Linked DNA regions of Homo sapiens: regions 2 and 3 are each linked to region 1. The links come from fine-mapping of genetic effects on plasma protein levels. A gene starts in region 1. Each other region holds a variant in brackets. All regions are shown on one strand. Distances are between the middles of the regions.

Region 1 (2,768 bases):
CATTGTATTTAGTTTTTATATTTCACTGTAAAGATTTTACTGTGTGTGTGTGTGAGCGTGAGTGTGTGTGTATCATGAACTGACAAAAAAATAACAGTTAACTTTCAAATTCGGTACAGCAATATAATTTGGTTTTGTCATGTTGGGCATTAGCTAAAGTGAAAATGTGACTAAGATACTTTATGTAACATAATAACTGTTGATTACTCAGATAGTTTTCATAAACAGTTGGCAAATTTTGACTTAAAACAGCTGTCACTATAAATGTAAAGTAAATGTTAATTTAGGAATATTAACCTTGTGAATGTTTCTGTAAATAAGGCTTATGCTATTTCCAAAGGTTATAGAAAATCACTGGAGTATTTTTAGCCAAACTTAGTGCAACTTTATCCTCACTGTTTTTAAATTCTTCAGTTTTACACATAAAAGTCTTTAATCATACTTGATGGTTTTTCAGTGATTCCCTTGAGTGTACAAACTGCATAAGGAAGTGTATTTGATAGATTTACATCTTGGAAGTGAGAGAATAAATAAACTAAAGAAACAGTATTGCCAGAGATACATTTTACTCTTTTATATAAGAAAACAAAGAAAGCATTTTCAACAAGCAAAGTTGCACTGACTGTTTACTAAATAAGGTAACCTGTAAATACTTAGAGCAATTATAGCTCACAGATCTCAGGGGTTGAAGTACCAGTTGCATGCTAAAGTGAGCGCTGTTCTGTTTTGTCCTGTTTGTACAACTCATTTCCAAGTAAAATTTGTATGACAGACTGCAAACCCTCTTGTACAAACTACTAAAAATTACATCAAGTTCCATAGTTACTCTGATACACACATTCAGCATCATGTAGTATTCAGCTGTATAAATGCTTTCTAAAAAATTAATTAAAACCATTCTTTTCTCAGAACACATGCGAAAAATGCAGTGAAAGCTATAACAAAGCTTAAAACAGAGTACCTGCAACATGCTGAGCTCTTTGCAGTACTTACCCGTTCAGCAACTTAGTTTCTCCTGGCAGCACTTCTGTGCCAAATGCTTCTACCTTCCCAAAAATGTATGTCAGCACAAGCCCAGACGAAACTTCAAATCCAGGAAAATAAAATTAACCATGCAGATCAAAGGCAGACGAGCAGGGAGATGAAATGCCTGTAATCTGATCAGTGAATCAGTTGCTGAACATCAAAGGCAGGGCTGAGTTTATATATATGCATGGATATCAAAGAAAGTTCACTTTCAGCAGGTAGTTACCCTCCCACCTCCTAGTCCACAGACTCTTTTGTTAAACATGGATCACGTTGTTTTCCTCCTCTTTTTTGCAATGAGGCAATGCTGGTAGTTCTCCCATGCTTGGGCTGAGTGGCTGGATCTGTAGCTTTTTTGGTTCCCAAGCTGTGTTGTGGACTGTGTGTTGGAAGCTTTTCCTAGTGCCAGCGGGTTCTGCTTTATCCCTTTCATCTCGCTGAACTGCAGATCCCATGACATCATTCAGCGCCGTGGGACTGGTAGGAGAGCTATAATTCAGCCTGTGGGGGAGTATAGCTCAAGAGAAGCCAGAGTTTGGCTGATTTCTAATCATGTTAGACTATTGTGCCTCACACAGGACAGTTTCTGTTATCTGTCTGCCAGCTGGAAAGGACAGCAACTGCTGCTGGATGCTTCTTGGGTGATAAGATCCCTGATGGATGGACGTGCCAAATGACAGCATTTAATTGCCTCTTCGCTGATAAAAATCACAATTTCCTACAGAGACTGGGTGTCAAATATTCAGCATAGTTAAATAGCACTATGAGACCACTCTAAAAAACACCCAAGGACACTGCCAGATGGACCGATAACATTTTCACATTTTGATTCCAGTTTTCAAAGTGACAAGTCTTTAAGGATTTTAAGGAAACTGCCCTTTCTTTGAAACATACATTATTAGGATCTGATTACCAATCAAACCGGGTTGTGTTAAGTAGTTAAGCAGCAGATAACCAACAATTCATGAATAAACTGCCATCTTCCACTGGCTCACTTAAGACTTTGGGCGGAGACTTAATCTCAATCTTTGCCTTAGTTCGGGACTCTGGAAATTAGATTTTAAAGCAATATCTACTTCTTAGACATATTTCATTAATACTTGTTGAGCATTTTAAAATTCACAAAAGAAGAATTATGTAGAACAAAGCATTTGCCCTGTGATTATTCCAAAGCCATGTTATTTGCCTTTTAGGGCTGTTTCTTCCGAACTCATAGTTTGGACTTTCAACTCACTAAAAAATTACCACCTTAGCCTAATTCTTCGTATTTTAAAATTAAATATATTGCTCATTATTTAAAAATTTTAAGCTATTTTCCTTAACAATGTCAGATTCAATACAATATGATTATTTTATTTTGAGTATTTAGTAAAATAGAAGATAAGAAGAAGTTTCATCTTCCTTGAAATCCAGGATATGGTGCTTTTCTGATTTTCAGACAGTTCTTTCATGGAATGAAGACAATTTTTCTATTTTATAATGGAAACTCACTAACTTTTAGAAAGTAAGTTAAAAATATTTTTGCAAAACTTAGGGGATAGTAGAACTCAGTCTTTTTCAATGTAACTTCCCTCCTTAACTGGTTTTGTCTAATTTTTCCTGACGCGATATTTGAAAACGTTATTTATGAAGTGTTTATTTCCAGATTTCTATGATTCTTGAATAATTTTAATAGCAAAATATTTAGTTTGAACTGTTCATAAGTTCTGTATAACATTTAAATAGTCCTGTTGATTTTTCCA
Region 2 (2,768 bases), 89 kb before region 1:
GAATAAACCAGGACCAATTCTTGCTGCTTCAGCTTCTGTGTACCTCCAGTCCTCCTAACGGCACTTCCCTGCTGAACTTACCGCAGGTCTGCACTGAGTCACGGCGGCACTGGCAGCAGGCTCTGTGGGCATATTCGTGGAGCTGAGGTCTGTCAAAACACGACAGCTCAGAGCCGTTGTACTGAATGTCCTGTGACCGCAGAGACCCTAAATGAGGGGTGAGAACTCTGTCAGGGAACACAGTCTCCTCTCTAGTGGACCTGTGCCATTCTAGCTTTTGTATTTTTAAAGAACAAATCAGCTATCCTTCCAATGTTTGATGACTTCTTCTTACATGGAAGCACAAACATGAAATAATTTGTTAAGAAAGTTCAAAATGTAGGGTACTAATGTTGCCATTACTGAGAATGATTTTTATTTTTGCCTAGTGGCGCAGGGACATCACAGCCTTGTAAGTCTCCTTACAAAGCTGTGCAACCTCAGTGAATTCTACAGATGACCCTTAAGCAACACGGGTTTGAACTGCGCAGGTCACTTATACACAGATTTTCTTCAGCCTCTGCCACGCTGAGACACCAAGGCCAACCCTCCTCCTCCTCCTCCTCAGCCCACTCAACATGAAGATGATGAGGATGAAGGCCTTTACAATGATCCGCTTCCACTTAATGAAGAGTAAATCTATTTTGTCTCCCTTATGATTCTCTTAGTAACATTTTCTTTTCTCTAGCTTACTTTAATGTAAGAATACAGGGCATAATACATATAATAGGCCGGTGCAGTGGCTCACATCTGTCATCTCAGCACTTTGGGAGGCCGAGGCAGGCGGATCACGAGGTCAGGAGTTCGAGACCAGCCTGGCCAACATGGTGAAACCCCGTTTCTACTAAAAATACAAAAATTATCCAGGCGTGGTGGCGGGCGCCTGTAGTCCCAGCTACTCCGGAGGCTGAGGCAGGAGAATCACTTGAATCCGGGAGGCAGAGGTTGCCATGAGCTGAAGTCACGCCACTGCCCTCCAGCCTGGGTGACAGAGCCAGACTCTGTCTCCAAAAAAACAAAAAAACAAAGAAACATATAATAAACAAGATGTATTAACCAACTGTTTATCAGTAAGGCTTCCCGTCAACAATAGGCTATTAGTAGTTAAGTTTTTGGGGAGTCAACACTGACGTGTGGATTCTTAACTGCTCTCCTAGCCCTCTGCTGTTCAGGGATCACCTGTGTTTCTTGTGCCCTGCGTTCTTTCACAACTCACTGGTGCTTGTCTCAGCCAAGTCTCTTGTGGAACACTTGCACGACAATAGTAATAAATGCCCTTCCCCTAAATGCTAAGAAATGTAATGAGCTCAAAACTTACAGCTGGGTTTCTTCTCCATAAACTGTCTCTTACAATAGATGACACAGAGGATGAGCAGGGCCAGCAGGACGGTGGCCAGAGCGCTGCAGATAACGGCAGCCAGCGCCGTGTCCCGTGGGCTGGAGGCCGTGGAC[G/A]CGATCTTCACGAGGTTGACCTTGCTGGCACCTGAAACCACAGGAATGGGGTCAGCATGCTCTGAACAACTGCAGATGCAGTGTTTATGGCGAAGCTGGCAGGCACCCTTACCAGTGGCCTTCCCATGCTGTGAGAAAACTGGCATGAGATATTTAAAGATGGCTCAAGCACCCCCTCCACCCAGAAGATGTCTTTAATGGGACACCTTTACCCGGCACCCCACAATGTGCAGGGTGTCCCTCTCCTCTGTTCCCAGAGCGCTACGGACACACAATCCTCAACACATTGTGTTACTAGAATCTGCCTTCAGCTCCACCAGAGCAGAATTCTTTGTGAGCTGGGGGTCTGTCATCTTTACCTCTGGTTGCCCAGTACTTGGCATGTGGCAGGGAACTAATGTTTTGTACTTAATTGGAATTACACCATATTTTTAAGCAGACTGAATGCATGTATGCTTTTTGGGGCAACTTTAGGGGAAAACAAGGAGTTGGATCATCCAGAACCTTACAGTAGACCCCAGTTTTTGAGACAGTAAACATCTCTGAATGCCTTAGCTGTTAAACTACTGGAAAACATCTAAGTTTTGGAGAAAAGACTAATACTGTTATTACACTATGGAAAGGCCGGCATAGTCATGTGCTAAGAAAGTCAAGAAATAGATCTTATTTTAGAGGGCAGTACTGCTTTGTGGTTCAGGGCAGATTCTGAACCCCATGGCCTGGGTCAACCTCTACCTGTGTGACCTTGAGACACTGACTGGAATTTCAAGTTGCCATCTGTTCAAATGGAGGTAATAATAGTGACTGGCTCATGTGTTATGTAAAGTGTGTGGGACTGGCTGTGCTGTAGAATCATTAGCCACTGTAATGATGATGATAGTAATTACCATTTTAAAACTATCCTGAGGGTACCAGGATAAACAAACTCATTTAAATCAGAGATCTATATCTAGTGCAGTTAAACAGCATATCCTACTTAACTAACCCCAAAATAATGAGAGAAATGGATTTAAAAGGGGCATGAATCTACACAGAGGGGCAGTTACATTTTCTCTTTCCCAAGCAGATGCCCTGAGTGAGCTGAGGGGCCCTCACTCTGCTTCCCCGGCAGGTGCTGCTCACCACAGGAGCCTCCCCTCGACTGAAGATTACTCCAGGTAGAGGTATAATGTGTGCTTCACATGTCATTTCAGGTTGTCTAGGAACCACATTTAAAACGTAAAAGAGAGGCAAGGTGCGGTGGCTCATGCCTGTAATCCCAGCACTTTGGGAGGCTG
Region 3 (2,768 bases), 44 kb before region 1:
AGTAGAAAGAGTCTTACATATTTGTTAAAAGGATGTTAACTTCCTGTTGAGACAAATTCTGTGGTACTAAAGGTCTCAAGCTTCTCTAGATTTGAACATCAGAACACACTGTTTTCCAAGAGTGGGCAAAACAAATGGCTCTCTGACCCACATACAATCATTTCCACAAGTTCAAGAACTCAGTAAACTATAGCATATCATGTAACATAATTATAATGCAACTATAAAAAGAAGAATGTAGATGTGATCTGTGTTCACGACAATTTTAAAAATAAGTTTTAATACAGAATTAGAAGTATGATTCCATTGTTTACAAAAACATTCATGTAAGTACCAACATTTATGGGTGCTTACTCTAGACCAAGAACTTTACACCATTATCTCAATAATCCATACTCCTTCCCAATCAGGGCAGCACTGCCATTTTTCCCATTTCATAGATTGGGGGATAGAGCGTCAGAGAAGTTATGTACCTTGGGCTAGGTGACAGAAGTAGTGTTAGAACCAGGATTTCAACCTACATCGTCTAATTCCAGAGTCAGGCTTCATAACCACTACACTACAGGGCCTGCCAGGTACTATATATATATATATATATATATGTATTACTTATCCACAGGAAGCGGCTGAAGGACTACACACTGTTGGTAACACCTGTTGTCGGTCTTTGTGATGGTTTCTATAGAACACTCATCATTAACAAAAAACAGACAGTGGCTTAAGAGCAAGAAGGGCACCCATGCAGGCAGCAGGCTGGGCATGCCCACAAATGCAGACTGGATGCTGCAGAGGAAGAAAGGCTTGCAAGAAACCTCAGTTTCCTCATTTGTAAACCCTGGATGCTAAAATGCAAGTCCCACCTAGTTCAACATTCCCATTTTTTCTGTAAAATTTACATATTTTAATTTCTTCATCCATATTTGTATACGAAATCAACTAAGCAGTACTTATTGGCCAAAAATTAAATGAAAACCAACTTGAAGGATAGTGCTGCCTGTACTTAATAAACTACTCAACAAAGGATTCGGAGGAATCACTTCCATCTAGATTTTTACTAATTAACTCATTCACATTTTGGGTGAGTGATACTTTCTTTCCTCCTTTCAATTACTCTGCCTGTCTTTCAAACGTACATCGGGAGTGTGCACAACAAAGAAGTGAGGAGAAAAGGGTGGAAGGTCAGCCTCCTCCTCACTCCTGAGAGCTCCAGCCACACA[A/G]TGTTCTATATCAGAGGCACAGAGAGGAGGGGGGAGACAAACAACACTTGATTTAAAGAACTGATTAACAAGTTAGAATTTCTTTAAAATTGTTAACAGGGATTATCTCTTTCAGAGGAGGGGAAGATTAGAATTACGGGGTGGTCTCAAGTTTTACAGTTCTGCAAAATGTAATTTTTGCAAAAAGCATCCATTACTCTTGTAATAGGAAAACAATAAAGATGCATATTCAAGGAGAATTTCTCTGGACATGTGCTGGGTCTTTGCGGGGTGATCATTGTGACTCTGGCTCTGGGCTGGGACAGCTGTGTTTTTGCTGAGCACTTTGGTTGCTGGGAGAGCTGTGTGCAGGCACAGGCTTTCTGAAGTATAGGAGAGAGCCTCCCACTCCCAAAGTCCCTTGGGATCAAGGCACAGGTGCACGTGACCTTCTGGGGGTGGTCTCCACCTTGTTCCCAAGCTAGGGTTCTCCACAGCAAAGGTTCAGGAAAGAGCAGAGTATTTCAAAATCACACTTTGATCCAGGCAGCTTGAGGTTGTAAGAGTCTCATGTACGAGTTAAAACACAACAAAGGAAAAGAAGAAGGAGGAGAAGTACAAGGGAAAGAGAAAGGAGAATGCAGAGAAAGAGGTGCATTAACTGGAAATAAATGTCCTTGGAAATTCTGTTTCAAGCCAGGTCAACATAGGAGAAAAGTATGTATTTTCCTACATTGGATCTAAAGAGACATGAGTTTGAATGCCAGCTCTGCCACTTGTTGGCCAAGTTATTTTGGGAATTCTCCGATCCTCAGTCTCTTCATCTGTGAGATGGGGATAAGAATACCTGCCCTAAAGGTTGTGTGAGGAATAAATGGGAATGCATATAAAGTGCTCAACTCTAAATCAAGCACGGAGTGCACATTTCCTAAACAAATTATACCTATAAGTGTTAGGATTTTGGATTTTCTACAATCCAATAAATAAACCAACTTTGCTGATTCAAGAATCATAAAGCTTCCCTGGAAATAAGGGGATCATCAGACCCCAATTTCCATCTAAGACATTTTTATTGACTAAGAATCTTTCAAAAAGAAATCATAATTTTCTTAATTAAAACAAGTTTAGTGGAACACAAACTCTAATTCAACCCTATCTGAGTCAACTGCTGCACCGTGCTATAAGAGCCCTGCGTTCCTGCCAGTCAGTCATTCAACTGTGGCTCCCTGTCCTGCTGACTGTCTCCAAGTCACCTCCTCCCTCCACTGAGAAACTGTACAAGTAATCCAATGGACTAAAAGTTTTGAGTGTCACAACTCTTTTGAAAATGAACATACAACTTAATGTGGTGGAGGTCTTTGTGGTTATTTTTTGGCAAAATAATAAAATTCATTGATCATATCCCAAATACTCATGGGAACTTTCATAAAGACTGTTTATTTGGGAAATTTTACTTAAAATAGATTTTCTCTAAAGTATTTACTATTTTCAAAAATGTAATATTTTTAAAGCCTAATATTAATTTGAAACTATTAAAAAATAGCCTGCAGTTCATAAAAGTCTAAGAAATTG

Alleles and levels. Alleles are on the strand shown, and positions count from the first base shown. The strength of an association depends on the size of the effect and on how common the allele is.
In carriers of allele A in region 2, the plasma level of the protein whose gene starts at base 1,430 in region 1 tends to be higher than with G alone (moderate association).
In carriers of allele A in region 3, the plasma level of the protein whose gene starts at base 1,430 in region 1 tends to be lower than with G alone (weak association).

Evidence for each region. PIP is the posterior inclusion probability: the model's chance that the variant is causal. The UK Biobank Pharma Proteomics Project read protein levels with antibody pairs (Olink). The fine-mapping took linkage between variants from a reference panel, not from the people measured, so its PIPs are less certain.
Region 2: its variant is fine-mapped to the plasma level of the TNFRSF19 protein (UK Biobank, PIP above 0.99). The variant lies in the coding sequence of TNFRSF19. If it changes the protein, the assay may bind it differently, which can mimic a change of level.
Region 3: its variant is fine-mapped to the plasma level of the TNFRSF19 protein (UK Biobank, PIP above 0.99).

The regions. Positions count from the first base shown.
Region 1 is chr13:23,569,074-23,571,841 of GRCh38, reverse strand. TNFRSF19 (TNF receptor superfamily member 19) reads right to left here and starts at 1,430. Exons shown (of 10, transcript NM_148957.4): 1 at 994-1,430.
Region 2 is chr13:23,657,804-23,660,571 of GRCh38, reverse strand. TNFRSF19 (TNF receptor superfamily member 19) reads right to left here. Exons shown (of 10, transcript NM_148957.4): 6 at 1,358-1,522; 7 at 82-207. Among named protein-coding and RNA genes, the nearest start is that of TNFRSF19, 89 kb to the right of the region's middle. The variant G/A (reference allele first, on the strand shown) is at 1,492.
Region 3 is chr13:23,612,581-23,615,348 of GRCh38, reverse strand. All of the region lies in intron 3 of TNFRSF19 (TNF receptor superfamily member 19), which reads right to left. Among named protein-coding and RNA genes, the nearest start is that of TNFRSF19, 44 kb to the right of the region's middle. The variant A/G (reference allele first, on the strand shown) is at 1,218.